Linked DNA regions of Homo sapiens. The protein of the gene in region 4 interacts with the protein of the main gene of each other region in a pairwise test. Each region holds a gene or a part of one and is shown on either strand. Other genes may lie near its edges. The genes, in order: MAPK8IP2, ESRP1, MICOS10-NBL1 and SDC2.

Region 1 (7,777 bases), on a different chromosome or scaffold from region 4:
GCCAACCTTCTGAATGAACCATCTCAGACCTCGAGCCAGGCTTACCTCCAACTGCAACCAAACCTCAAAAGAGACCCAGGCAAGAACTTCCCATTGGAGTCCTTCCTGAATTTCCACCCTCAAAACAAACAATTGTAAATAACAACTTAATTGTTTTAATCCACTAAATTTGAGGATAATTTGTTACACAGTAATAGTAATTGAAGCACATTTCTTATGGAGTTAAAAAAAAAAAAAAAGGCTTGACACAGTGGCTCACGCCTGTAATCCCAGCACTTTGGGAGGCTGAGGTGAGTGGATTGCTTGAGCTCAGGAGTTTGAGACCAGGCTGAGCAACATGATGAAACCCTGTCTCTACAAAAAATAAAAACATTAGCCAGGTGTGGTGGCACACATCTATAGTCCAACTACTCTGAGGAATGAAGTGGGAGAATTGCTTGAACCTAGGAGGCAGAGGTTACAGTGAGCTGAGATTGCACCACTACATTCCTGCCTGGGTGACAGAGCAAGACCCTGTCTCAAAAAAAAAAAAAAGTGGGTATTGTAGTAATGCAGCAAGAGACCAAGAAAAGTAGGAGGTAGTGATCAGAGACCTGGCTGCATAAAAATGAAGATTCGGGAAATGGTGGCGTTAGGACTTCACCATGGTGAAGGTAGAACTCTTAATTTTCATCTTTATTAAATGTGTCTGTTTGCAGTTTTAACCATTGGCATATTTATTTTGTGTTTGTGATTTCTGTGAAATATGAGTACAATAAATACTGATAGTTTGCATTTGTTTTCTAATCTCTCAGAAAGTTGTCAGAAAATGTTCTCTGACTTTTTAGAATTGCTGTGGTCAGGACTGTGGAAGCTGTTGCGATTCCAACTCTCCCTTCTAAGTCCAATCAATTTTGTGCTTTGTAATGTCTATGCCATTCGTGCACCATAGAGGGAAGAAAGCGTTAAAATGGTCGCGTCACAACATCTTGATTTGTCATTGAAGGAGAAGGAGTCTGGAAGGACGCTGACAACGGGTGGTGGTCAGGAAGGAAAACCCAGTGCCTGTGGCCCAGAGGCTGGAGGAGGAACTTCAAGGAGGGATGTTCAGCTCCCTGTGGACCCCCATTTGTTCATCCATACAATGATGCTCTGAGGAGCACACAAGGAAGGTGCAAATTTGATAAAATGTGCATGATGTAAGGAGCATAAACCCCCTCAGGAAAGAGTTGCTGCCTTTTCACTAATGTATCCCTGAGCTGCACAGAGCAGCCCTGGGGGACTGGGAGGACATGTCCCCGGTGTGAGGAGCAGGGGAAAGGTGAGCCTTAAATGATCACCAACAAACAACAGGGCCTGTGTCTGGGGCTTACACCACGACATGTGGTCCTCGCAGCACCATTGCTCAGAGGAAGAAACCAAGATCTCGAGGAACTGAGTAATTTGCCCACGTTCAACAAGTTGGTGCAAAATGAAGAGTGGCTCCCGTATTTCAGACTTTAAGGCCGACGATCTTCCATCTGTGCTCTGGGGGCAAGATGGGAGGTCCACAGATAAAATTGCGGGCGGTATCCCCCATCTCATGGTCTTTACGCTCATGGGACCTGGGAGTGACCATCTTTTAAGAGGGAGGGAAGGAAGGGGAGAGGCTTGAGGAAGGTTTTGGGGATTAGGATCTAAGATGAAATTTGAGACTATAAGACTTCAGATTGGATGCTGTGGCTCATGCCTGTCATCTCAGCACTCTGGGAGGCCATCACCTGGGCTTGGGCCCAGGAGTTTAAGACCAACCTGGGTAACATAGTGAGACCCTGTTTTTACAAAAACAAACAAAATGCCAGGTATGGTAGTGTGCACCTGTGGTCCTAGCTACTCAGAAGGCTGAGGCAGGGGGATTCCTTGAGCCCAGGAGTTTGAGGCTACAGTGAGCTAGGGACACACCACTGCACTCCAGCCTGGGTGACAGAGTGAGACCCTGTCTCAAAAAAAAAAAAAAAAAAAAAGATTTTAAGCTTGCTGCAATTCCAGATGAAGGTAGATCCTGGAGGCACTTTGTGGGAGAGGTCACTACACTTGAGTATTAAAGACTGTTGACAGATCAGAAATCAAGGAACTGACTGACCAGGGTATTGGATGGGTCATTTATGTGGATGTCCAGATGAACCAGTTTGGTGAAAAGACTCAGGATCAAAAGCCAATCTGGAAAGTTGAGGTCAAACTCTCTGTGAAATCTGGGAAGGGATCTGGATTTTTTGGGAAAGGCAGGGAGTGGTTAATAGGCCCAGACTCCCTCAGAAATGGGGAATGTTCTTAGTGCTTCTAAAAGGGAAAAGACTGTTATGGCAAAGACCTGATGCCCCAGACTGGGTTAGAGACCATAAGCTCTCTCATTCATTCATTCACATGTCTGCTAAGCACCTACTGTTTGCCAGGCACCATGCTTGGAGCCTAGGGCTTCACAGAGAGATGACAGCCTCTCTTCTCTCCAGCCAACCCAAGTCAAGAAGGCAAGCATAAACTAGTAAATGGCTTTTTTTTTTTTTTTGAGATGGGATCTCACTCTGCCCCCCAGGTTGGATGCAGTGGTGTGATCTCAGCTCACTGCAACCTTTGCCTCCTGGGCTCGGCCAATTTTTTTTATTTTTGGTAGAGACATGTTTCCAGGCTGGTTTCAAACTCTTGAGCTCAAGTGACGCACCCACCTTGGCCTCCCAAAGTACTGGGATTACAGGTGTAAGTCACTGTGCCCAGCCAAGTAAATGCCATTCTTAGAAAAATACTGTAATTGGCATAAAATATAAATTGTGATGGGACACCAAAGAGTGCAGGTTCAATCAGGCCCTGGCCACAGGCCTCTCTCTGAGCTGGAATGGTGATACCCCCCTTCCCGACTTGCATGAGCTCCTTCTGCCATGTCGTTTCTGGTGTTTGTCACTCAAGTGCCTTGTCCTTTCCTAAGGAATAATTTTCCAGGCCAGGGGCGGTGGCTCACGCCTGTAATCCCAGCACTTTGGGAGGCCAAGGAGGGCAGATCACCTGAGGTCAGGAGTTTGGGACCAGCCTGGCCAACATGGCAAAAACCCATCTCTACTAAAAACACAAAAATTAGCCGGACATGGTGGTGATTGCCTGTAATCCCAGCTACTCGGGAGGCTGAGGCACGAGAATCGGTTGAACCCGGGAGGTGGAGGTTACAGTGAGCTGAGATCGTGCCACTACACTCCAGCCTGGGCAACAGAGCAAGTTCTGTCTCAAAAAAAAAAAAAAAAAAAAAAAAAAAAAAAAAAAAAAGAATTTTCCGCAGAACTAAGACATAAAGAAATCTTAGGGCACATAACTTTCATCAAGGGGGAAAAGGGATTGCGCTTTTGTTGAAATGCCAGCCTCCTTCTTTAGCCAATATTTAGCCAGGTGCTGTGGTTCACACCTGTAATCCCAGCACTTTGGGAGGCTGAGGCCAGAGGATAGCTGAGCCCAGGAGTTTGAGACCAACCTGGGCAATACAGAGAGAGCCGGTCTCTCTCTCTCTCTTTTTTTTTTTTTGAGACGGAGTCTTGCTCTTGCCAGGCTGGAGTGCAGTGGCGCAATCTCGTCTCACTGCAACCTCCGCTTCCCGGGTTCAAATGATTCTCCTGGCTCAGCCTCCCAAGTCGCCGGGACTACAGGCGCCCGCCACCACGCCCGGCTAATTTTTTTGTATTTTTAGTAAAGACGGGGTTTCACCATGTTGGCCAGGATGGTCTCTGGTCTCGATCTCTTGACGTCGTGATCCACCCGCCTTGGCCTCTCAAAGTGGTGGGATTGCAGGCGTGAGCCACCGCGCCCAGCCACCGGTCTCTATTTTAGAAAGAAAAAAAGTGTCCTGCAGTCTCTCCCTAGTTCTGCGCCCTCAACCCTGATCTCCCGCCTCCTCCCACAGCCACCGTCTCGAGCTCAGCTTCAACCATGGCCCTCCCCACAGGGCTCCATCCCAAGCCAGAGCGGGTCAGTTCCCTACACAGGGCCCAGCAACACGGTGCCCAAGAAAAAGTGTTTCCAGTGGGACGCATGTCGCCTCCGTGGGTGCTAACTTCTCCCAGTGCCCGTCGGTACGTCCGTCCGGCTGTGCAGTCTCTACTGAGTGCTCAAAGTCCACTTTTAGCCCCAGCCAGCATCCTCTGAGTACCTTGTGCTCGATTCTGAATCCAGCCCTGCTCGGCGACCCTCGTGCAGACGTCCCCGTGCAGCCCCGGTCAGCACCCCGTGGGGACAGCTCCGATCAGCACCCGACGGCGGACAGCTCCTCCCGCGCCTCCCGCCTCGCCCGCCACCCCGCTCCGGGCCGCACCCGGGTTAGGGTTCCTGGGGGGATCCTGGGCGCGGCGGCGCAGCTCCCGGGGCCGCCCCGGCCTCTCGCCCAGAGGAAACAGCCCACGGCGAACCCGAGGCCCGCGGACCCCGGCGCTGCCTCCTCGGCCTCCCGCCCCGCGCGGGTCCTCCAGGGCGGGGCCCGACGCCCACCCGCCCGCCCCTTCCCTCCCGCCCCTCCCCGGGAAAAATCCTCATCGCACGCCCGGCCCTTCCCCAACCAGCGCCCGGCAGTGAAGCCGCCGCCTCTCCTCCAACCAGCGTCCCCGGCCGCGTCCCTCCCCCGCCTCCCCCGCCGCCCTCCCCGCGCCGCCGCGGAGTCCGGGCGAGGTGCGCGGGGCGGACGCCGCAGGGCGTGTCACGAGGTGAGCGGGGCGGGCCGAGCGCCGGCGCGGGGCGCGGCGAGGCTCCCGCACCCCCCGCCGCAGTCGCGGGCCTCTCCCGGAGAAGATGGCGGATCGCGCGGAGATGTTTTCTCTCTCCACCTTCCACTCGCTGTCGCCGCCGGGCTGCAGGTACCCCCCTCGGCGCCCGGGCCGGGCGGACCCTCCGCTCCCTGCGCACCCCCCCGACCCCGACCCGGCCCGGACCCCCGTCCCCGCCGCCCCAGCCCCGCCGCCGGCGCGGACCCGGCCCCGGCCCCCTGCGGTCCCTGAGCCTCGGCTCGGGCGCCCCACCCCCACCCCGCTCCCACTCCCTCCATCTTCACCGCGCGTCCCCAGCCTCAGTGACCCCCGGGCCCCGCCGGGATTCTGAGCCGCGCCCGGCCTGGACGGCTGACCTGTCAAGGGTGGAGGCCCTGGGCCGACCCTCTGCGGGGGAGGATGCGGGCGGGATGCGGGCACACCCTCCCGGCGCGGCGTGTCCCGGTGGCCTTGGCCTCTTTCAGTGGACGCCAGACCTGGCCGATAGGGCCCGGCCGGGAGAGAGTGGAAATCAAGCCCGGAGCCCTGCGGGAAGGGACTGGGGTTGGGAGGACGCTGGGCCTCTGGGTTTAGGCCTCACTCCGCCGGAGAGGGGGAGACAAACAGGCCAGACTCTCTTCCCAGAGCAGGAGCGACCCCTCCCCATCTGCCGCTGCCGCGTTGCAGCTCCCCCTCCCCTGCTCTGCAAGACCCTGACCCCAGGGGCCTGGAGCTGCGAGTGGAGGGAGGAGAGGCTGCTGGCTCTCCAGGGAGGCGGGGTGGGAGGGGTGGGGGCAGGGTTGGCTCCTCCGGGCAGGCCTGGCTCAGATGGGGGAGGGGATCCACAGGCGAGCAGAGCTTGGGGGTCAAGATGATGGCAGGATGTGTTCCGAGAGCTGGGGGCTGTGGAAACCACTGGGTGTAGGAGCTGACGCCTCCCTCTGCCCCTCCTCAGGGCCAGTTGCCAGGCAGGGAGTCCAGGGTTGGTGGCTCTCTGACCCTGGTCTCCTTTCCAGGCCTCCCCAGGACATAAGCCTGGAAGAATTTGACGACGAAGATCTGTCTGAGATCACTGATGACTGTGGCCTGGGCCTCAGCTACGACTCAGACCACTGTGAGAAGGTGGGAGAAGAGTTGGGGACACAGATCCAGCTCAAGGGAGGGCCTCATTAGGTTCTTCTTAGCGTTCACTTGGGGTTTTAGGGTGGGTGTGAGCTCAGCCTTGAACCGGGGACTCCTCTGATGGCTCCTCCCCACTTAACCCTTGAGGTTTCCTTGGTATCAACTCTCTCTTATTCCAACACATTGCAGGCCTCCACGCAGGGCCTTCCCCAGCATTCTCCCCGACCCCATCGGTGGCCAGCCCGGGGCAGGGAGGTGCTCCTTTGCTTTGGGTGCCCTCTGTCCTCAGATCACTCCCAGAAAGATCTAATCCCTGGCAGCTGCCATCACAACCTTGTCCCCTCTGCAGCCCTGTGCCCTCGTCTGCAGCTCCCATCTGTCTGTTTCATGTCTCCCCCTGCTGAAATCTTTTCTCGTCCATCTCTTGCTTCTCCTCCTCCCTGTCTCTCCACATTTCTGCTTTCATTTATTGAAGAACATTTCTGAGCAACTGCCATGTGGCAAGTACTGGGGGCTTCTGGGTGCTGGGAGTGGAACAGGACAGCTGCTCTCTGGAGCTGCAACTTAGTAGGGGAGAAAGACTTGTAAGGGACAATGGCTGCCCACGTGTCAAGGGCTGCATTCCAACAGGGACATAAGTTCCACGAGGGGGAAGGGAACCCAATCCACACTGAAGGAATCAGGGAGAATTTCCAGAGGAAATGTCAACCATGCCCTGAGGTTAGCAGAGCCAGGCAGATGGGGTAGGTAGGAGGGAATGGAGGAGAGGAAGTGCCAGCATGGGGAATAACTGTGCCAATGGCCCTGGGGTTGGCGCAAAGTTGGTGAATCCTCAGAGTGCAGAGGCTGTCTCTCCATTTCTGCATCTGTTTGATGTTTACTGAACATCCGCTGAGCCCCAGGTCTTGTTCTTGGGGGCGGGTGCAACAGTGCATAACATGGACATGACCCTGCCCTGGTGGGGCTTGCAACAGACCAAAAACCATGTCCAGTAACTGTAAGTTGTGTTAAAACGCTGCGAAGGGAACACAGTGCTGGTGTCAAATGTGATGGGGTTCTGCAGTTAGATGAGTCTGAAAGTGGGGCTGGGGCTGCTCTGAGAATCCCTGTCATTCAGCTGTAGAGTTTAGGCCCTTCCCAAGAACTGGAGTGATCCCAATGTGTGTTAGGCAGATTTTGAAAACATCGCCCTGTAGACAGAGGGGCAGAGTGAGCTGGAAGGGGCTCTCCTTTGACTGATGCTCCCCGATTTCCCTTCTCCTAGCACCTGGGCCCCTGGGCTACTGCTGCCCTCTGGCCCAGCCCTGCTATCTCCCTCCGTCCTGCAGGACAGCCTCTCCCTGGGGCGCTCGGAGCAGCCGCACCCCATCTGCTCCTTCCAGGATGACTTCCAGGAGTTTGAGATGATCGATGACAATGAAGAGGAGGACGATGAGGACGAGGAAGAGGAGGAGGAGGAGGAGGAGGGAGATGGGGAAGGCCAGGAGGGAGGAGACCCTGGCTCAGAGGCACCTGCCCCCGGGCCCCTTATCCCCTCCCCTTCCGTGGAGGAGCCCCACAAGCACCGGCCCACCACCCTCCGTCTGACCACACTGGGGGCCCAGGTGAGTGCCCGGACCCACAGCTCCCTGGAGCTGAGCCTGGGTTCATAGCACCTGGGCTGCAGCCAGCCCTGCTCACCCCCTGGGAGCTGGCCCTCCTCAGGACCGCCGTCATGTATCTCCACCCCAGGACTCCCTAAACAACAACGGAGGCTTTGACCTGGTGCGTCCGGCCTCCTGGCAGGAGACAGCGCTATGCTCACCCGCCCCGGAGGCCCTCAGAGGTGAGGGGTGGTGGGCCCGCGGGGCGCGGGGAAGCGGGGGAGGAGGGCAGGGAGGATGGACTGGCTGCTGGAAGAGGCCTGGGTGGTGCAGAGAGGGTGA
Region 2 (7,031 bases), 1.9 Mb from region 4:
ATCTTCACCTGTTGCTTTGTAAACCTGAGAAAAGACAGAGAAGTTAGTGTTTCTGAGCCTTCCGTCCTATGTTAATTCTCATTCACGATGTCCAGGGGTTCAGGTTTTGAGGACATACCTCAATATACCGGGTCCCCATGTGATGTTTGTGCCTCTGTAGTGCTAGGTCTCGGTGCTCCTCACTTACAAACCTAACCAGAGCTTCTCCGTTCCTTCGACCCTGAGCATTCAGACAAAGTGCTGCACCTCCCCTTTGAGAATAATAAAACAGACAGCAGGTAGAAAAAAAAATACAGTGAGGAAAAAAAAGATAGAAAATCCATTATCCCTTTGGGATTGTTAAGTAAAATAGATATTTAAGAAAACCAACTTGGCAATATTGAGTCCTTTGAAGAATCTTGCAATATCTTGATCTGAAGACTGCCATGGTAAACCTCGTGCCCTGACTACGGTGTTATCATCAATAAGTTCCATCTTGCTGCTGTGGATGAAGCAAAACTTCAGGTTGCATGATAAATGCTAGCAAGTCAGACACCTATTACCCCCTGCAAGACAACTGCCTAGTTACACAGGATGTATTATTTGGTGTTCAGACAGACTAGCAATACTACTTGATTTTCCTTATAACCTCAAAAATTATGTGGGTACAACTCAAAGTACTGTTTAGGTGGTTCATTATAGAAACATGGCTGCCTGTGCAGGCCCAACACAGCTAGCTCACTCAGCAAACCATCTATCTATCAAAGCTGAGGAAGGCCAGGCGTGGTGGCTTATGTCTGTAATCCCAGCACTTTGGGAGGCTGAGGTAGGTGGATCACCCGAGGTCAGGAGTTTGCGACCAGCCTGGCCAACATGGTAAAACCCCGTCTCTACTAAAATTACAGAAATTAGCCGGGCATGGTGGTGTACGCTTATAATCCCAGTTACTTGGGAGGCCAAGGCAGGAAAATCACTTGAACCTGGGAGGTGGAGGCTGCAGTGAGCTGAGATTGTGCCACTGCACTCCAGCCTGGGCAATAGAGCAAGACTCCCTCTCAAAAAAAAAAAAAAAAAAAAAGCTGAGGAAATGTTTGCTTGGCACCCTCATGTCCTGAAAGTTCCTAGAACCCCAAAAGATAGGTTTGAATTCATTCTCAAATCTAGACAGTATACATGTGGGGTTTAAATCCAGTTTAGCAGCCGAATTTAGGATCAGAATAAAGCTGACAATTAACCCACATGAGGAATGTGTGTGCATGGTAGGAAGTCTGCCATTAAAATATCCCCCAGATCAAACCAGGGAGCCATCCCAGAGAATGTCCATAGAAATGCCTGTGAGTCCCTACACCTTAATGACTCATTTGCAAATCACTTATTATATATTTTGACACCTTTTGATGTCTTATCCCTCCCACGTTCACATTTTCAGTTCTCCTAGGACATTTTCTTAATAAGTCACTTTCTCCACAACTAATCGGCCTCAAAGTCTCTCTCTATGGGCAAAGCTGTCAGAAGTTTCTATTCACTTCAGAGACCAAGCACACACTCAATTCATTAGAGTGATTTACAAACAGGTCTACCTGCGATCACTAACAGACACCACTTCATACTTCTCCCCAGCTATTTCCTTGGCTTTAAAGTAGAAACCTATATAGCCAGGCACAATGGCTCACACCTGTAATCCCAGCACTTTGGGATGTCAAGGTGGGTAGATCACATGAGGCCAGGAGTTTGAGACCAGCCTGGTCAACACGGCAAAACCCCATCTCTACTAAAAATACAAAACTTAGCCAGGCATGATGGTACACATCTGTAATCCCAGCTACTGGGAAGGCTGAGGCACAAGAATCGCTTGAACCCGGGAGGCGGAGGTTGCAGTGAGCAGAGATCACACCGCGATATTCCAGCTGGGCAACAGAGCAAGTGTCTCAAAACTAAAATAAATAAATAAATAAATGTACTTATAGAATGTACGTAAAATTTTATCTCAGTAAAAATTGTGAACTCTATTAAAGCCTACAATTTCTCCTTTGGAAATTTTCTAAATGAAAGATCGGATAGTTTGGGGAGACCAAAATAACAATCACAGATATGAGCATATAATATACTTAAGGTCAGGGTGACTAAAGATGCCAGTAAGTCATTACATTTTATTCCCAATATCAAGCTCTAAGTAATACAACCTTCTTTTACAGATGACCGAACAGCAAGAAAGGATAGCTAAAAGGATTAGTAAAGTTTCTCAAATATAACAAGAATTAAGAGGCACAATATGAACAAAAACAAGTTAAAGGCCGGGCGAGGTGGCTCACGCCTGTAATCCCAGCACTTTGGGAGGCGAGGCGGGCAGATCACGAGGTCAGGAGATTGAGACCATCCTGGCTAATATGGTGAAACCCCATCTCTACTAAAACTACAAAAAAATTAGCCAGGTATGGTAGCGGGAGCCTGTAGTCCCAGCTACTCGGGAGGCTGAGGCAGGAGAATGGCATGAACCCGGGAGGCGGAGCTTGCAGTGAGCTGAGATCGTGCCACTGCACTCCAGCCTGGGCGACAGAGCAAGACTCTGTCTCAAAAACAAACAAACAGACAAAAAAAAAAAACAAGTTAAAAAGCTCAAATAAATAGTACTCAAGCACTTACCAAGTTCCACTTTCAAACTTGTAATTCACTCTCTCTGGATCTGAAAACCTGTGATCTAAAAATGAGAACATAAAAGTCATCATTTTAGTGATTAGGGAGACAAAGTTGTAGGAGGAAATTTGAGTATAGGTAAGAGAAAAATAGTATGAATTCTGGGACTGCACTACTATAAAAGCAATACTTACTATAAGGCTCTGAAATCATTGCTAAAATTATATTCCCCATATCTTCAACTTGAGAGGCTCCATATCGAGAGACTGAACTACTCTTCTCAAAATTTAAATCTGTGAGATTAAATTAAGGAAACACTTTGGAAAGGTAAAATCAGGTTACTTCTAAATCAAAATTAAACCTATACCAAGCCAAGAGGAAGAAGATGGATCTAGCTGAGCTTCCTTTAGAAATCTCAGAATGGCTGCCTCCCATCAGTCAGTCATTCAACTTAGGCTCCAACTGCCCTTTTGGGTAAAAGAGGCAAATCAATCCAGTGCTGAGATATTACCAGGAATACAATTTTTATTTACCCAGTTGTAGCAAATGAATACTGAGCATTTTCATTTCATTTTGAATCAAAGTATGCAACAAAGTTAATTAGAATATTTCATCCTCTGAATCTTTACAGCACACACAAGGCAATGACCATGCCGACTTCATGATATGGTGACATTATCAACACTACAAGGTATTAAATGACTTTTTTTTTGGCCTAATGTTTGAAATGGACACCACAGATTATTGATGTGACATTACTTCCACAATGCCACTTTTGCTTAGAAATTCTATTATAGAACACTTTTGGAGCCCTGTAGGATAGTCCACCTTTGATGACAGCAGATGCTAGTTCTAGACAGCAAATTTTGGAAACAATTCAAGCACTCAGAGCCAACACAGGCCAATGTGCTTCTTTACCAAAAGTATACTCTTTGAAACACATAGCTCAAACTTGGTTTGAGGGTGAAACCAGGAATTCACATGAAGTTTTGCGAATCTCTCTAAAATAAGGATGTATTTCCATCAAATAGAGGCATACCTTGAAAATATGGTAGGCTTGGTTCTACACCACTGCATTAAAGTGAATATCACAATAAAGCAAGTCACACAATTTTTTGTGTTTCCCACTACATATAAAAGTTATGTTTTGACTGTTCTAAGTATTCAATAGCATTATGTCTTTTAAAAAATGTACATGCCTTAATTCAAAAATGCTTTGTTGCAGATGGGCACAGTGACTCACACCTGTAATCCCAGCACTTTGGGATGCCGAGGCGGGAGGATCTCTTGAGACCAGGAGTTCGAGACCAAGCCTGGCCAATATGGTGAAACCCCATCTCTACTAAAAATACCAAAATTAACCAGGCGTGGTGGTGCATGCCTGTAATCTCAGCTACTCAGGAGGCTGAGGCAAGAGAATCGCTTGAACCCGGGAGGTGGAGGTTGTAGTGAGCTGAGAACACCCCACTGCACTCCAGCCTGGGCGAGAGGTAGACTCTGTCTCCAAAAATAAAAAACAACAGAACAACTTTGTTGCTAAAACATGTTAATCATCTGAGCCCTCAGTGAGTCAATCTTTTTGTTGGTGGAGGATCTTACCTAGATGTTGATGGCTACTCATAGATCAGGGTGATGGTTGCTAAACGTTGGGATGGCTGTGGCAATTTCTGAAAATAAGACAACAATGAAGTTTGCCACATCAATTGCCTCTTCCTTTCATCAAAGATTCGGTAGCCTGTGATGCTGTTTGAGGGCACAGGCAGAGTTGACTTACTGTAATTCTTGGTTTTCTTTGGTTTTTTGTTTGTTTGTTTGTTTTGGTTTTTTTTTTTTTTTTTTTTTTTTTTTTTTTTTTGAGATAGTCTCGCTCTGTTGCCCAGGCTGGAATGCAGTGGCACAACCTCAGCTCACTGCAACCTCTACCTCAGCCTCCCGAGCAGGTGGAATTACAGGCACGCGCCACCATACCCAGCTAATTTTTGTATTTTTATAGAGATGGGGTTTCACCATGTTGGCCAGGCTGGTCTCGAACTCCTGACCTCAGCTGATCCACCTGCCTCAGTATCCTAAAGTGCTGGGATTATAGGCGTGAGCCACTGCACCCGACCTCATTTTTGTATTTTTTAGTAGAGATGGGGTTTCACCATGTTGGCCAGGCTGGTCTTGAACTCCTGGCCTCAAATGATCTACCTACCTTGGCCTGCCCAAGGGCTGGGATTACAGCCATGAGTCACCACCCCGGCCAATTTAGCATAATTCTTCAGAACGCTAGGATTTTTAGGACGGTTAATGACCATTAGCTTTAACTTAAAAGTCACCAGCTACATTAGCCTATAACAAGAGAATCAGCTTTTGAAGCAAAGCATTGATTTATCCTCTCTAGCTATGTTAGTCCAGGATGGCATCATCTTCTAAGAGAAGGCTGTTTCTAGTACATTGAAAATCTGCTTAGTGTAGCTGCCTTCATCAGTTAGCTAAATCTTCTGGGTAACTCACTGCAACTTCTCCATAAGCACTTTCTGCTTCACTTTGAATTATGTCGTAGAGCTGACTTATTTCCTTGAATCTCATAAACCAATCTCTGCTAGCTTTTCTTCTGCAGCTTCCTCACTTCTCTCAGCCTTCATAGAATTGAAGAGACTTAAGGCCTTGCTCCAGATTGCGCTTTGGCTTAAGGAAATGTGGTAGCTAGTTTGATCTATCCAAACCACTCACACTCTCTCCATATCATAGCAATAAGTATATTCCATTCAAATTACACTTTCCTCTCTTCTATAAATGACAAGTGGTACCCAGCCTTCTCATCTTTGCTCAGGTAACACCCTATAATGTTTTGCTTTCTTATCATTCATATATTCACTGGAATATTCAAGAAATTTTCCTTTACGCAACTTGACAAATCATTTGGTGCATAAGGCCTGGCTTTTGGCCTCCCTTAGCTTTTGACATGCCTTCCTGACTAAGCTTAATCATGTCTAGCTTTTGATTTAAAGTGAGAGATATGAAACTCTTACTTTCATTTGAAAGGTTAGATGCTGTTGTAGGGTTAATTGGCTTAATTTCAATATTGTGTTTCAGGGAATAGGGAGTCCCAAGGAGAGGGAGAGAGATGGGGTAACCACCAGTTGGAGCAGCCGAACACACACAACACTGACCAATTAAGTTTGCCACCTAATATGGCCCTGCTTTATGGTGCCCCAAAACAATTACACCAGTAACAAAGATCACTGATTACAGATCGCCACAACAGAATAATGAAAAAGTTTGAAAGGTGACAGAGAGACAAGTGAGCAAATGTTGTTGGAAAAATGGTGTCAATAGACTTGCTGAATGCAGAGTTGCTACAAACCTTCCATTTTCTTTTTTTTTAAACAAAACAAAACTGGCCAGACACGGTGGCTCACGCCTGTAATCCCGGCACTTTGGGAGGCCGAGGTGGGAGGATCATTTGAACCCAGGAATTCAAGACCAGCCTGAGATAGCGAGTCCCCATCTCTACAAAATAACAAATTGGCCTGTCATTGCATCTACTCAGGAGGCTGAGGTGGGAGGATTGCTTGAGCCTGGGAGGTCGAAAAGTACACCACTGCACTCCAGCCTGGGTGACAGAGCAAGATGCTGTCTCAAAAATAAAAGATGAAAATTTAAAAAAAGACAAAATACAACAACTGTGAATCACAATAAAGTGAAGCACACTAAAACAAGGTGCACCTGGGTGAGCAGACCCTAATGTGCTCCGCAAAACCTAACATTGACTTTCTAGCCCCTTATAGCAAACGGTTATTGACCTGTGACCTATTACAGAAGAATGGAGATTGCAAAAAGATGGCCAGATACAAAGGATGCCACAGGAATGTTTGTCAATCAATCTCAAAAAAGAATATGGGGAAAATTTAGACTTGAAAGGAGTATAAAAGTATATTCCATTCAAATTAAGCTTTCCTCTCATCTATTAATGGCAGGATTACCTAGCCTTCTCAACAGTGCTCAGGTACCACCCTATAAGGAAAGCACTCTTATCTTAATCCCCTAACCAAATTAGGCCACAAATGACCCACCAAAACTGTTCTAGGCCACAATCGTCAATTTAAGAGTTCATTAGATACTATTCCTAAAATGTTATGCTATTTTCTCGACTGTTGTAACATTTCCTGGGTGTAGGCCCCCATCTTCCTCTGATCTCTTTCCACCTATCAACATCTCTATAGCTTCCAAGGATCTGCTGACTTAAATGGTGGCATTTACTGGACACCATTTTGTGCCAACCACTCCCTATTTCTTCCAATTCTCATAATAACCCTGACAGATAAATTACAGCAAAACCAAACAGTTGTAGAACTAAGATTTAGTGAGGCTAGGCATGGTGGCTCACGCCTGTAATCCCAGCACTTTGGGAGGCCGAGGTGGGTGGATCACTT
Region 3 (7,000 bases), on a different chromosome or scaffold from region 4:
ATCTATCAGATGAACTGATACTTAAAGAAAAACAATAATTTGCTTTCTTTTTCCATGACTATTCAATGGCCTCTTTTAGTATTTTTTTAAACATTAAAATGGCTTCAAACAATTTAACTAGACTTGATTATTGAATGAATACACAAAATCTGCTGGTTAACTTTAATTCTAAGGCAAGTCAGCTTCTAAGTCTTTTACTGTCCTACTTTTTTTCTTTCTTTTTTTTTTTGGAGACAGAGCCTTCTTGTTCTGTCGCCCAGGTTGGAGTGCAATGGCCTGATCTTGGCTCACTGCAACCTCACCTTCCCAGGTTCAAGTGATTCTCCTGCCTCAGCCTCCTGAGTAGCTGGGATTACAGGCATGCGCCACCACACTCAGCCAATTTTTATATTTTTAGTAGAGATGGGGTTTCACCATATTGGCCAGGCTGGTCTCAAACTCCTGACCTCAGGTGACCCACCCTCCTCAGCCTCCCAAAGCGCTGGGATTACAGGTGTGAGCCACCGTGCCCAGCCCTGGCCATACTTTCGTAACAAGGAAGAAGCAAGGCCGAATCCTTTCTTTTCATAAAGATGAATGCATGATAAACCAATAACTTTCATCTGTTAACTGAGCTGCATATAATTAGAGACCTATCTCAAGACATACTAGAAATTAAGAAACTACAAAATGTTATTCCCCTCTCTGCCTCTCCTATTTGTCAAAAGCAACACCATGCTCATTTATGTAGGCTTGGCACCACCTGACTCCTCCCACTCCTGAGCCTGCATTTCAAGTTCTGTAAATATAAACTCTGTACTAGCATCATTATATCTCTCTTTTCCACTCCTGCTGCTCCCCTCTTAGTTCATGCTTCCTCTCATTTGATCAGCTCATCTTTGGCAAGATTTTGCAATAATATACTAAGCTAGCTCCCTGCCCCCACATCCTAGCACTCCAGAGAGTTATTCATTCTCATCACATCAGTGATCTTTCTGAAATCAGAAATTCAACCACGTCACTTTTCAGCTTACCATTCAATGAATTTCTTCGAATGCTAAACATAGAATTGCCACACAACCAAGCAATTCCACTCCTAGGTATATATCCAAGAGAGATGAAAACATGTCCACATAAAAACTGGGGGGCTGAGCACCATGGCATGCACCTGTAATCCAAGCTACTCAGGAGGCTGAGGCAGGAGGATCACTTGAGCCCAGGAATTTGAGACCAGCCTGGGCAAAACAGACCCCATCTCAAAACAAAACAAAAATGTGTACACTTGATCACAGCAGCATTATTCATAAAATTTAAAAGCGTAAACAAACTAAATGTCCACCAACTGACAAATGGATAAACAAGATGTAGTACAAATACACCACACAACATTATTTGGTAACAAAAAAGAATGATGAACAGATAAATGCAACAGCATGGATGAATACTGAAAACACTACCTAAGTCAAAGAAGCCGATACAAAAGACTACATATTATATAACTCTTTATGTAAAATGTCCAGCATAGGAGACTCCACAGAGACAAAAAGTAAATTGGTGGTTGCCTGGGGCTAAGGTTGGGGTGAGAGTTTGGGAATAGGAGCAGCTGCATCCAGTGTTTCTTTTGGGGGAAGCTAAAAATATTCTAAAATTAGATTGTGATAATTGCACAATTTGGTGAAAAAACTAAAATTGTACACTTTAAATAGGAAAATGTATGCCATGAAATATATCTCAACAAAGTAGTTTAAAAAATCTCCACAACTTCCTACACCCTTCCACCTTTCCTGCCTCATCTTTTGTCCCTCCCCACATAAATCCTTTAACCCCAAAGGATAAAATCTCCTGCATTAACATGTGATAGCTACAAGAATGGGGTTCACCTTCCTACCCTTGCAGCTGTAGCCTGTGATCCTAAAGGAGGGATTCTGCCACCATGAGCTTCCATTGTAAAAATGGAGAAATATCTTACAAGGATATGAGATAATGATGTAAAATATAACATGCTCAGCACCGTGCCTGGCATGCGGTTAAGTGCTCAATAAGTGATGGTCATTCTCATCATTCCCAGAAGGAACCAAAGTATCCCTCTCCTTTGGGACACCTTCAAGGAGTGAAACACACTCCCCCACCTGGTCCACCTATTAAATATCTGCATATTTTCCAAAATGGGGGTCAAATGTCCCTCATCCTTTTCACATTCCTCAAGGCAGTAAGCCCCTCGAGGGTAGGGCCAGTGCCTATTCACCTGTGTGCCACCCCCTGCCAAGGCTTACCACAATACCTGGTACTAAATTGTTTCAAGAAGTACACATTAATGATTACTATTACATATATAAACATGAATATTGATTATCAGACCTACAATAGCCACGACCCACAATAAGACCCACCTACGACCCACAATAGCCAAGATCAGGGTAAATGTGTTAATCATTTTAACTCTTTTACCTCTACTCTTCAGCGACAGCCTCCAGTTTTTATTTATTTATTTGAGACCAAGTCTCACTCTGTTGCCCAGGCTGGAGTGCAGTGGCTGCATCTTAGCTCACTGCAACTTGCTACTCCCGGGTTCCAGCGATTCTCATGCCTCAGCTTCTCGAGTAGCTGGGACTACAGGTGCGTACCACCACACCTGGCTAATTTTTTGTATGTCTAGTAGAGACTGGGTTTCACCATTGTTGGCCAGGCTGGTCTCAAACTCCTGGCCTCAAGCGATCCACCCACCTCAGCCTCCCAAAGTGTTGGGACTATAGGCATGAGCCACCACACTCAGCCTCCAGTTAATAATATTTAGTAAGTACAGGCAACGTCCTAACTGCTCTAGAGATTATCTCATTTTATCCTCACTTGCAACTACCCTCTGGGGCAAGTACTATCATTTTATAGATAAGAAAACTGAGGCTGGGAGGTATTTACTGGTACATTTATTTTGAATGAAAAAAATGAGGAAAAGAAAAACAAAATGACTGTGTATGCCACTACAGTTCACTGAATTGAATACATTCTAGGGGCTCCTTGTAAATGTCCATGGCTTGCCTTTTTTCTTGCTACTAACGGAAATCACTGTTGTGCTTGACACACCTGGCTTGCCAGGACAGTCTTTTCCAGGAAACTCTCCAGCTTTGGGACCTCTCCCTCCACCATGACATCTCCTCCCTGCCTTCATCCCAGCCAGCCCTCTGATTCATTCTCATCAATGATTTTTCTGAAATCAAAAATTCAACCATGTCACTCTTCAGCTAACCATTCAATGAATTTCTTCAAATGCTAAAATACAGAGTTGCCATACAACCTGACTTCTATTAGAATAAACTAGAATTCTAAACCAATACATGGATTAGTAAGACTAGATATTCCTTACTCTGGTCTCACATTGGAGCAAAACAAAGAGAAAAGGGACACAGCCAATTTTAAAGCTATCCAAGTCACACTAGGGATTCCCAGGACCTCCGTATGAATCCAGGAAGTGCCAGAATCAGATTTTCCTCAAAGCGTCCTCTGGCAAATCCATAGTCTGAGGACAGGCCACTGTCACACAAGCAACATCAACTTGGTCAAAAGGTCCACAGCCTGCTGGTGCAAGCCTTCGGCATTCAAGAAGAGTAAGTTGTAACAGAATTCTGAGGCAATGACAGTGTTTCTGCTTCTGTTTGTTTGTTTGTTTGTTTTGAGATGGAGTTTCAATCTTGTTGCCCAAGCTGGGGTGCAATGGCAGGATATTGGCTCACTGCAACCTCTACCTCCCGGGTTCAAGCTATTCTCCTGCCTCAGCCTCCCAGTAGCTGAGATTACAGGCATGCACCACCATGCCCGGCTAATTTTTTGTATTTTTAGTAGAGATGGGGTTTCGCCATGTTGTCCAGGCTGGTCTCGAACTCCTGACCTCAGGGGATCTGCCTAACTCGGCCTCCCAAAGTGCTGGGATTACAGGTGTGAGCCAGCGAGCCCGGCCTAGTGCTTCTGTGACCCACACCTGTAGGGCTCATAAATTCTCAAACCACAGGGAAGCAGCCCCTGGAAGTCTATGACTTTTCTCATCTCCTAAAATCTTATTTTCCTTGGGAAATTGAAAACAGACATAACCTCTCATCCAGTCCAGGGTGACAAGCCCAAGCTGAGGACATCGGCTCTGTGGAGACCAGAACGATTTAAAGTCTCCTAGGTTGATAAGACACTATGCCTTCTAGCCTCACTAATAAGAAATGTGTGACTTATTCATGCTCATGGGTACTAAGACAGATTACCCATACATACAAGGAAAATAAACACCACAGCCCTTGAACTGAGTGGATAAAGAAAGCCAGAGCATTTAATAAATCTGATAAAACTTAAAAATAAATCCATAAAATAAGCAAAACCCATTAATGACGCATTCACATAAAACTAACGGAACATGCCATTCATAAAATGTAATATTCTTCACTCCTTTTTAATTTCCTGCAATAAGGCTTTGGCACTACCACTTAAACCAACATCATCCCTCTACTTGTTTAAATACAAAAGTGCTCTCTGGTTTATGTTTCTCAGTTGACTATTCCCAAACATTTTTAATACTACTTTATTATTAAGATCTACTGACAGTTAATTTACATTCCCAGATGAAATTAAAAGTTGGTATAAGTCCCAAGAACACAAGGATACATGATCAAACATGTGAACGGGCAGAAATCTACTTTACTTGGAGTTTTTCAGTTAAATACTAATTCATTCAGTTAATAAACACACTCTGAGAAGCAAATATGGGCAGAGAACGGTCTACAAAATTCTCAGCAATACATGTCATTCATTTAACAATAATTATTGTACGCCTCCTCTAAACCAGGCGTTAGGGGATCAACAGTGAACACAACAGCCTCTGGTTCTTATGAAGTTTACATTCCAGGGAGAAGAAACAATCAAGTAAAGAAACCAATTACAAATTTCAAATGGTGAAACATGCTATTAAGAAAAATGATGTGATAAAGAATAAATAGAATACCTAGGAACTTCTTAAATGCTAACAGGGTTACTAAGGAAAAAAGACCTATCAATGTCAAACTTTATAGATGAACTAGGCAATGTATGTAGTGGCAGTGGCAGGAATAAGAATAGAGGTCAAAAAGAAGTGTAAAAATGTGACAGGAATAAAGAAAAAGAAAGCAACAAGGGCTAAAAAAGTGGAAAAAAGAGAAGTGGATGTGTAACAAGTAAGGGCCCACTGTGCCCATCACTCAGAGCTCCCTTCCAAGAGAAAGATGGGTTTTAATTTTTGCTATTGTTTTTAGATCCATGGGCTTAATTTATCAGTTCAAACCATACTAGAAATCACCTATTCTTCCACACTATTTGATACAAAATAAATAGAGGTTTTAAAACCCGAATAAGCAGGTAAAATATAACTGCTTTTCTTTTTTTTCCTTTTTCTTTTCTTTTTTTTTTTTTTTGAGAAAGGGTCTTGCTCTGTCGTCTGGGCTGGAGTGCAGTGGTGCGATCACAGCACACTGCAGCCTCAACCTCTAGGCTCAAGAGATCCTCCCACCTCAGCCTCCCAAGTAGCTGGTACCATAGGCGTATGCCACCACACCCAGCTAATATATATATTTTTTGCTGCAATGGGTCTAACTATGTTGCCCAGGCTGGTCTCGACCTCTTGGGCTCAAGTGATCCTCCCACCTTAGACTCCCAAAGTGCTGGGATTATAGGCATGAGCCACTGTGCCTGGCCTAGAACTGCTTTTCTTAAGATAGTAATGGGGGCAAGGGTATTTATAAATAAATGCCTCTTCCTACAGGACAAAATCATATGATAATTTTCTATTAAGATATTATTCAAGCCTCAGGGTGAAAAGATCCTTGAAGATTACTTTTTTAAAGGACCACTGCCTAAAGTACAGGCTTAAGAAAGCTATTTAACTCAGCTATACAACACCTATGCTAAACACGAGTGATTATAATAGTCATCGTACAGCAAACAGGTGGGAAAATAACCCTGGTGAACCCTGGAAGCAAAACACTTTAGGTATAAGACAACCAAACAGAGAAGGACTCACAGAAGTTGCTGTGCATTCACCATGGCTTCCCTTCAGTCTTTGCCAAGCCAGAGTATGAAATTATCAAGATGGACCAGGTGTGGTGGCTCATGCCTGTAATCCTGGCACGTTGGGAGGCCAAGGTAGGTGGATCGTTTGGACCCTGAGTTCAAGACCAGCCTGGGCAACATGGTGAAACCCCATCTCTACAAAAAATACAAAAGTTAGATGGGTATGGTGGTGCGTACCCACAGTCCCAGCTACTCAGGAGGCTGAGGTGGGAGGATCACCTGAGCTCTGGAGGTCAAGGCTGTGGTGAGCTGTGATTGCACCACTGCACTCCAGACTGGGTGACAGAGTGAGACCTTGTCTTAAAAACAACAAAAACCCACAGTGAAATTATCAAGATGGAGCTGAAAGCCTGCATTGGCCTTTTCTTCCTGTCTATGTCTTCCACCAAACCTCTTACCTATCTTATGACAGGCTGCCATTCCCTGAGTCTCCATCTCCATTTTGAAATACCAGAAAAGCAAGCAGCCAATGAGGTTTAAAGAGTTCCAGAACCTCACTACCCAGAGAAAACAGGAAGCAACACGCTCACTATAGAAGAGCGTACACCTTCATGGTTTCAAAGACGACTCAGACTAAAGCCTCCCTTACTTCTTCTCTCTTCCGCCCTCTCTCTCAGCCCATCACCAACAGGACAACTCCCTTATTTCACAGATGGGAAAAAGTTTGAAATTTCTCAAATATGCCCATTTATTCCAGTCTAACAGGTCAGACTTTTATCACCTCACAATCACAGTACTGCTAGTTTCCTCTGCTCCAAATTCATTCTGCCAGAACAATCATACTAAAATTTCATTTACTAGGTTGGTGCAAAAGTAACTGTGGTCTTTGCCAATTTTTTTTTTAATGGCAACCTAATATATTACGTCAATTCCCTGTTGAGGGCAGTGAAATGTCTTATGCTTCTCTATTTGCCCGCTGACTGACCCACAGCTCAATAAATAT
Region 4 (7,031 bases):
CTTTATTGTAGTTCTTCCCCAGTCCTTTATTATTATTATGTGTGAATCACAGGAAAAGGGAGGGACGAGGTAGGCAGCATGTTGAACATGCTCAGTGACATACATTTTGAGGTCCCAAGTCCCTACTTTTGGAGCTGTATGATTTCAGGCAACAATCTCCTGGGTAGGCCCTGGAGATTGTTGAGATGATTAGATGAGCCAATGCTTAATAAAATGCTAAGCACAAAATGCCTGGCACGTAATAAACACCTAACAGCCACAGCTAATCCTTTTGAACCCGAGGCTGAATGGTCTGATGTCACTCATGTTGTGGGGCATGACAGTGCAGCAGAAAGAGCCCACACTTAGGTGTCAAGAGCTTCGGGCTCCAGTTTGGCCACCAGCTAGACCAGAGGACTTTTGAGCTACTTTGCTACTCTGGTGTTCTGTTTCTTCATTTGTGAAATAAATCAGTGATCTTGGTGACTATAGTGTCCAGTCAAGCTCTAAAATTGTATGTTCCTTTGGGCTAGACCTAAGCCAGAATTGACAAGTTTAGCTTAAGGACAGGTATATCATCTCTGAGTGACTGTGTGGGTGACATAAATTTTTAGCTAATTATTATTTCCTTTACAATGTGTGTTGCTAGTAATAAAATAGTTTACTGAGTCACCTATGGAAAGATAAGCTACAGTTATAGCCTTTTTGGCACTTTGTAATCATCATAAAAGTTAATATACATTTGAGTCATAATTGGAGTTGGACTGCCTTTACCGTAAAACAGGAGGCATCATCTAGATGTTTGTTGTCTGTGATGTGATACAGAAATGTATTATTAGGCCACATGGATATTTTATTTTTATGTTCAAAGGCTAATTTTCTGAAAGTTGGGTCTGGGAGTCTGAGTTATCCATAATTAAGTTTTCTACCTTCTGCTTTCGTTGTTAACCTGAGTTAAAACCATAAAGTAAATTCGACATTTACTAATTTGAGCTTTAATTATTTTGACCACTGTGTTGGTTGCACTGGTTGAAAGCATGTGCAGGACCTCTGCTTAGTAGGTAAGGCGTTGTGTTTTTTAAACAAGGCTTTGAATTTCTAAATAACAGATTTCCACACTGGCAGTTTGAAACATGGTATTTGTTCAGTGTAGGTTTTACCTACATGAGAAAAATCAAACAAATAGATTTGTTCAGTTGCTATCCTACAAATTGTCTTCGCTGAGAAAATGGACAGGTTTGTGATGTTTCTGACTACATCAAGACTCTACTACACTTGATCTTTTGTGTATTGAATTAACACTTGTTCTTGTCATTTTTATTACAACTACCGTATAAGTTTGGGCTGAATCATTTTATCAAACTCTAAATTTTTATCATCAAATGTGGAAGGCCTAAATCACCATCGCTGTCCTCAATTTTCCAACCTAAAGGTGTTTATTTCCTCTTAGGGGTATAATACGAAGGAAAGTAGTGTCACCAGATCTCTTCTTGGTGTTTTTGTATTGGTGCCTGGGGTTTGGGTAGAGGAAGCAGCAGCAGCAGCTGAGACTAGAACTGCAGCTGAGGCCACTTGGTAAAGAACTTTTTTCCAGGCTAAGGACTTTTGTTTTGTTTGTTTGTTTGTTTGTTTGTTTGTTGTTTGTTTTTTGAGACAGAGTCTCCTTGCTCTGTCTCCCAGGCTGGAGTACAGTGGCGCAGTCTTGGCTCACTGCAGCCTCTGCCTCCCAGGTTCAAGTGATTCTCCTGCCTCAGCCTTGCGAGTAGCTGGGATTACAGGCACCTGCCACCACACCCGCCTAATTTTTGTAATTTTTGGTAAAGGAGTTTCACCATGTTGGCCAGGCTGGTCTCAAACTCCTGACCTCAGGTGATCCGCCCGCCTTGGCCTCCCAAAGTGCTGGGATTACAGGCGTGAGCCACTGTGCTAGGCCCAACTAAGGAGTTTTTATGTCATCCTCTATGTGGCAGGGAGCCAATAAAGGCAGGAGAGTGATACGATGATGTTTGAGTTCAAGAACAGTCCCTCTGCATCGAATGGCTTCAAAGACACGGACGTGGGCAGTGACAAGGTCAGGAGGCCTTAGTCCAGGTCCAGGCCCAACATGATGAGTTAGCCAGAGCCGGGGGGCCAGAGGCAAAGGGGTGGAGATAGGAGACAAGTATGTATCTTGCCTTCCTTCTAGGCATTGTGGGTTTACACAACTGAATCAGATGCGCATTCTCCTCTGGGAATTTCATCTATGGAGGCAGTGTAGTGCTTCAGTTTCCCTGGCTGAATGTGGCATTACGCAGAACCCTCTATCTGTCTGCCGCACATTTTCCTCTTGGTCGTACCTTGTTGCTTTCCACAGCCTTCCTTTGCTCTCCTGTATTCACATCTTGCATCAGCCAAAAGGGAAAGGTCTGAAAGACCAGCTTTGTTTTTCTCCCAGCTTGTACTCTGGACCCTGTTAGCCAACAGTATTGGCACTGCCTCACAGCGATGGTCAGTCCCAAATTAAACAGCCTCGTTATGACACCCTACAGCCAGGCTGCAGCTCTGGACTTGTGCTTCTGCACGTTTCCTTCCAGTTGCTTTCGTCCAGCGTCTCGGTCCCATTGAGTAAGGGAGTGTGTGCAGAGTATGTCCCGAGGTTTTCTCCTCAGTCAAGCAGACTACATTTCGCCAGGTGTAAAATCGGTAGTTTCGAATTCACCCCTTTTCATGGCCTTGAGGAGATGCTTGTCTCCTTGTCCCAAGGGAATATTGGTGCATAAATCATTTCCCGTCCTAGGCATGTTCATTCCAGAAACCTTTCAGAACAGAGTGTGGAGTCTTCATAAAAGGAATTTGTCATGAGCGCAGGGGTTTTTTTTTATTTTTTATTTTTTAAAGGGGAAGGCAATAGAGGTATTCATTATCTGCTACAGAGTGAAAAGGGCCCTGCTTTATGTTAAATTGGACTTCATGGAAAGATATTGGTAATTTCTCCTATGTTCTTTGTGCTCCTGAAATCAGAGTGGGAGAGAACTTTGATTTCAAAATTATTTTCACCACCCTGGATCACAGAGAAACACACTTTTGGCTGCCTTTAAACACATTAAACATCTGGTCAGCCCAGAGACCACCCGGGAGCCCTGTAGACCCCAAGTAACTGAGTGGCTGAGGGTAAGCCAGCTTCTCTAGACACACCCTGACTTCCACCCCAAGTCTTGTTGAAATACAGGCCTGACGGCTGTCCCAGGAAGTCAGTTGGCTTGTCAGACTGCCAGTGTGGTTGAACGGTGAGGTGGCTAGAATTCTCTGGGAGGCATTTTTGGCCCATCTGCCTGGTAGCATGACAGATGTGTTAGTCCAGACAACTGGGTCATCGAATGAATTGAAATTCAATTTACACATAGGGATTAAGTATCTCAGTATTACCCTTGCCACATCAAACTTCATTGACAGAGCCAAGAGGAAAATGAAAGTCATTCAATGTTAAGAAAAGGGAAACAAGATTCTAACATGGAAAGGGAATATTTTGCTTACTTTTAAGACTGTAGGTTACTTAAATAGATGCAATGCAAGCTATAGGAGGTTTGGGGCAGATGGTCTCCTAGGCTTAAAATGGAGAGATTTTAAACTACGAGGATCCTGGAGGTCTTGTGACATGTAACTCTGAAACCTCAGTCCAAGGCCAATTTGGTTTAAGTAATCTCAGTCAAATATTTATTTTGTGGCCATGCATTTTGAGAGGGACAGAGAACACAGGTCATTCAAAACATGCCTTCAATGAGTTGTACTCTGCTGAGGGGCAAGAAAAATGCACATGAAACAATGAAAAGTAACAGTGAGGGTTTATGTCTTAAACTGTTCATATGCTACAAAATCCTAAAATAGTACTTTATAATTAGGAGGTGTATAAGGAGTGGAGAAGTCACAGCCTGTTTCATAGTAGCCAGGATTTGAGAGAAGAAACCAGGAGGTCCTCCAGGGGAAGTAAATGGGACAAAGTTTAAGACAAGCAGGACGGAGAATGGCTTTTTCATGGGAGCACGAATGGTGGTTCAACCCAAGCGGTGTTTACTGAGCATCTACTATATGCCAGGCACTGTGACTGGGGGAGGGAAGCCTTGCCTTTAAAGGAGCTGAGAGCCTAAGAGGAGGCAGTTGATGATAGAGCTGTAGAACACAGGGCTCCTGACACAGTTCACAAGCTTTGGGAATTACAATCTGGAATGGTGATAGCCTTGGAAACCAGTGAAACAGGGTGGCGTCAGATTGCAGAGTTAAGCTCTGACCATTCTACTAGAAAAGTTGCAGCACACTCTTGGCTCAGGGTGGTCCAGGCCACTGGAACACCAGTCCCTAAGGTTTCAGTTCTCAGAATCCACCAGTGTGATAGCTCAAACAAAATAGATTCCCATGCTTTGCTTTCAGTTGGCACTGAGGCCTGGTGGAGAATGTGGGCTCAGGTTTAAAGTGCTTTAGCCTTGCTAGCCAGCTGCTGAAACCTGAGAAAATAAAGTGGTACTGTTACAGAGGGTTGGACCTGTCCTCTTAGGAAGGTTCCAATCACAGCGACTGCTGGAAGAGAAAATTTTATTTTAAGATTAAATCTAATGAAAGCCAGTGTAGTAAGGGAAACATTATTTTATAATTTCTGTTAAGAGCAAACATTCTATATGATTTTTAAAAATAGAGCAATAATGAGTGTTGCCTGTTTCCAAACAAGCGTTGTTTAAAAGCTGCCTGTCTGCTTTATTATTTTTTTCCTGGGCTTTTGCGAGATAATGGTAGTAAAATATCAATTTACTAAAACCATTTTTTAAAGTCTTATACCTCTACTCTGTCTCCAGTTCATGCAAGTTCTTCTTTTGGCAGGATTAGGTTGAATTTTAATACTAAACTCTTACTGAAGAGTTAAGAAGCTGTGGAACTGGTATACTTAGTGACTGATCCCTCTCCATATTAAGCGTGTGATTTGCTATTACCAGTTGCCAGTAATAGAAAAAGAATGTGCTCGTGTGGGTTTATCTGTATTTGTCATTAAGGCTTTGCTAAGCCAATGAGCCCTAGAAGCAGGCGTGCAGTGGGCTTTCTCCCTGTCAGGTGAGCCTCACGGGCGCTGCTCCTCTCCGGGCACTGTGGCTGGCCTCAGCACAGGTCTGGGCTGGGGTAGAAAGGCCTGCATGGCCTGAGGACCCAGGTGACTGGGGATCTCTCATCTGTAGCGGTAAAGTTCTGAGTATTGCCAGGCCTGCAAGCACTGGTAGGATTTGATGGATCCCTGGGTGATTATTTAGCCTAAGCTAAGCCGTAATACCTTTGCATACATCCCCAAGAAAGTCCTAAGTGTTTTGTTCCCTTTCCAGTAAGGGAGTGACAAAGAGAATGCCCAAGATGGCTTATAACTAGCATTGGGATGGCTGAAAGTCAGGTAAGTTTAGTGGAATGCAACAAAATAAGCCCAAGATAGGAGTTTAGATCTCCGAAATGTTTTCATTCTACTGGTTTAAGCTGTGTAGGCTTCCCTTGCAGGTTATTAGTCCGTGCTCACCTCTCAAATTGCTGTTAAGTTGTCAGGGTGCCTGAGGAAGACTGTGGCCAGAGATGTGGATTCAGACTACTGTGGGAGTGGGAGGGGTAGTCACTGCAGTATGTACCTGAACAATCAGATATACAAGTGTGTTTCTTAATCTCTCAACATCCTGACTCCCTTGTCTTTCCTTTCTCAGAGAGCAGAGCTGACATCTGATAAAGACATGTACCTTGACAACAGCTCCATTGAAGAAGCTTCAGGAGTGTATCCTATTGATGACGATGACTACGCTTCTGCGTCTGGCTCGGGTAAGGTGGCTGCTTCTAAACACTGGACCTCATTCTCCAGGCATGCACGCACACACATTTTACTGTGCTTACTTCAAGGAGACAGGCAGGATGCACAGTGGTTAAGGGCACCGTCTTTGGAATCAAAGGGCCTGGGTGCTAATTCTAGCTCTCTCTGCCACTTACGCTGTGAGATCTTGAGAATTTATTTGCTGAGCCTCAGTTTCCTCCTTTATAAAATGGAAAGTAACAATAGTCCTTACCATAGAGTTGTTGTGAGGATTAAAAGGGAGTTGACACATCTAAAGCTCTTAGATTTGGGGGCTTGGCACATAGTGCTCTGTCAACATTAGCTTTTAATCGTATTAAGACTTTCAGAGTGATGTCATGGAAACCACCCTTCAAGAAATCCCTCAAACACTGGTTTCATAAAACCACCTACCCTATGTTAAAAATTGTAGATGAGACCAAGAAGTTAATACGTTTTTATTCCTAGGGTATTGTAGGAGGAAAATGCAGCAGCCAAGTAAAATGATTATGTAGTGACATGATCAGATTCCTTAGTATATTATTCCTTAATAGTTATCTGTTACCACTCTAAGGCTACATAATAAACCACCCCAAAACTTGGTGGCTTAAAGTAACAGTCATTCATTTAACTTATTATTCTGTAGGTTGGTGATGTAGGCTGGGCTGGCTGGGCTCCCTCACATGTCAGTGGTCAGCTGCCGGTTGAGTGTACAGCTTTAGGTTGGGTTTGCAGCTTTCGGGTACTCATATCCCTGGGGCAGCTGAGCAGACTTGGGTTCTGTTCGTGTGGTCTCTCATTCTCCAGTAGGCAAGCTATTTTTTCACAGTAACAGCAAGTAGAAGTGTGCAAAGCCTCTTGCAGCCAGGCCTTAGAACTGGGCACAGCATCACTTTTACTACATTTTACTGGTTGAAGCAAGTCAGAAGGCCAGAACAGACTCCACCTCTTAGTGAAAGGATTCATAAAGTCACATTTACAGAGGATATGTATACACGGAGGATTAAGGGATTCTGGTCACATTTACAATCTACCATAATTGATGAATATTTCCCCTGTTCTCAGAATGGCCCCTGTATGAGTTCATTCTCACCCTGCTAACAACACAGGGACTGGGTAATTTATAAAAGAAAAGAGGTTTAGTTGACTCACAGTTCAGCATGCCTGGGGAGGTCTCAGGAAACTTACAGTCATGGCAGAAGGGGAAACAAACATGTACTTCTTCACATGG

What was found.
Region 1: the proteins of SDC2 (region 4) and MAPK8IP2 interact in binary tests that used the Homo sapiens proteins (3 or more experiments, as listed by UniProt).
Region 2: the proteins of SDC2 (region 4) and ESRP1 interact in binary tests that used the Homo sapiens proteins (3 or more experiments, as listed by UniProt).
Region 3: the proteins of SDC2 (region 4) and MICOS10-NBL1 interact in binary tests that used the Homo sapiens proteins (3 or more experiments, as listed by UniProt).

Annotation. Positions count from the first base shown.
Region 1 is NC_000022.11:50,596,043-50,603,819, forward strand, and holds the start of MAPK8IP2 (C-Jun-amino-terminal kinase-interacting protein 2), read left to right. Parts: upstream 1-4,750; 5' UTR 4,751-4,776; coding exon 4,777-4,841; intron 4,842-5,746; coding exon 5,747-5,852; intron 5,853-7,180; coding exon 7,181-7,456; intron 7,457-7,583; coding exon 7,584-7,677; intron 7,678-7,777. UniProt on the Homo sapiens protein: The JNK-interacting protein (JIP) group of scaffold proteins selectively mediates JNK signaling by aggregating specific components of the MAPK cascade to form a functional JNK signaling module.
Region 2 is NC_000008.11:94,658,147-94,665,177, reverse strand, and holds part of ESRP1 (epithelial splicing regulatory protein 1), read right to left. Parts: intron 2,907-7,031; coding exon 2,808-2,906; intron 2,678-2,807; coding exon 2,623-2,677; intron 482-2,622; coding exon 371-481; intron 252-370; coding exon 119-251; intron 25-118; coding exon 1-24. UniProt on the Homo sapiens protein: mRNA splicing factor that regulates the formation of epithelial cell-specific isoforms. Specifically regulates the expression of FGFR2-IIIb, an epithelial cell-specific isoform of FGFR2.
Region 3 is NC_000001.11:19,599,979-19,606,978, reverse strand, and holds part of MICOS10-NBL1 (neuroblastoma suppressor of tumorigenicity 1 isoform a precursor), read right to left. Parts: intron 6,193-7,000; 5' UTR 6,031-6,192; coding exon 6,008-6,030; intron 1-6,007. UniProt on the Homo sapiens protein: Possible candidate as a tumor suppressor gene of neuroblastoma. May play an important role in preventing cells from entering the final stage (G1/S) of the transformation process.
Region 4 is NC_000008.11:96,587,799-96,594,829, forward strand, and holds part of SDC2 (syndecan-2 precursor), read left to right. Parts: intron 1-5,681; coding exon 5,682-5,793; intron 5,794-7,031. UniProt on the Homo sapiens protein: Cell surface proteoglycan which regulates dendritic arbor morphogenesis.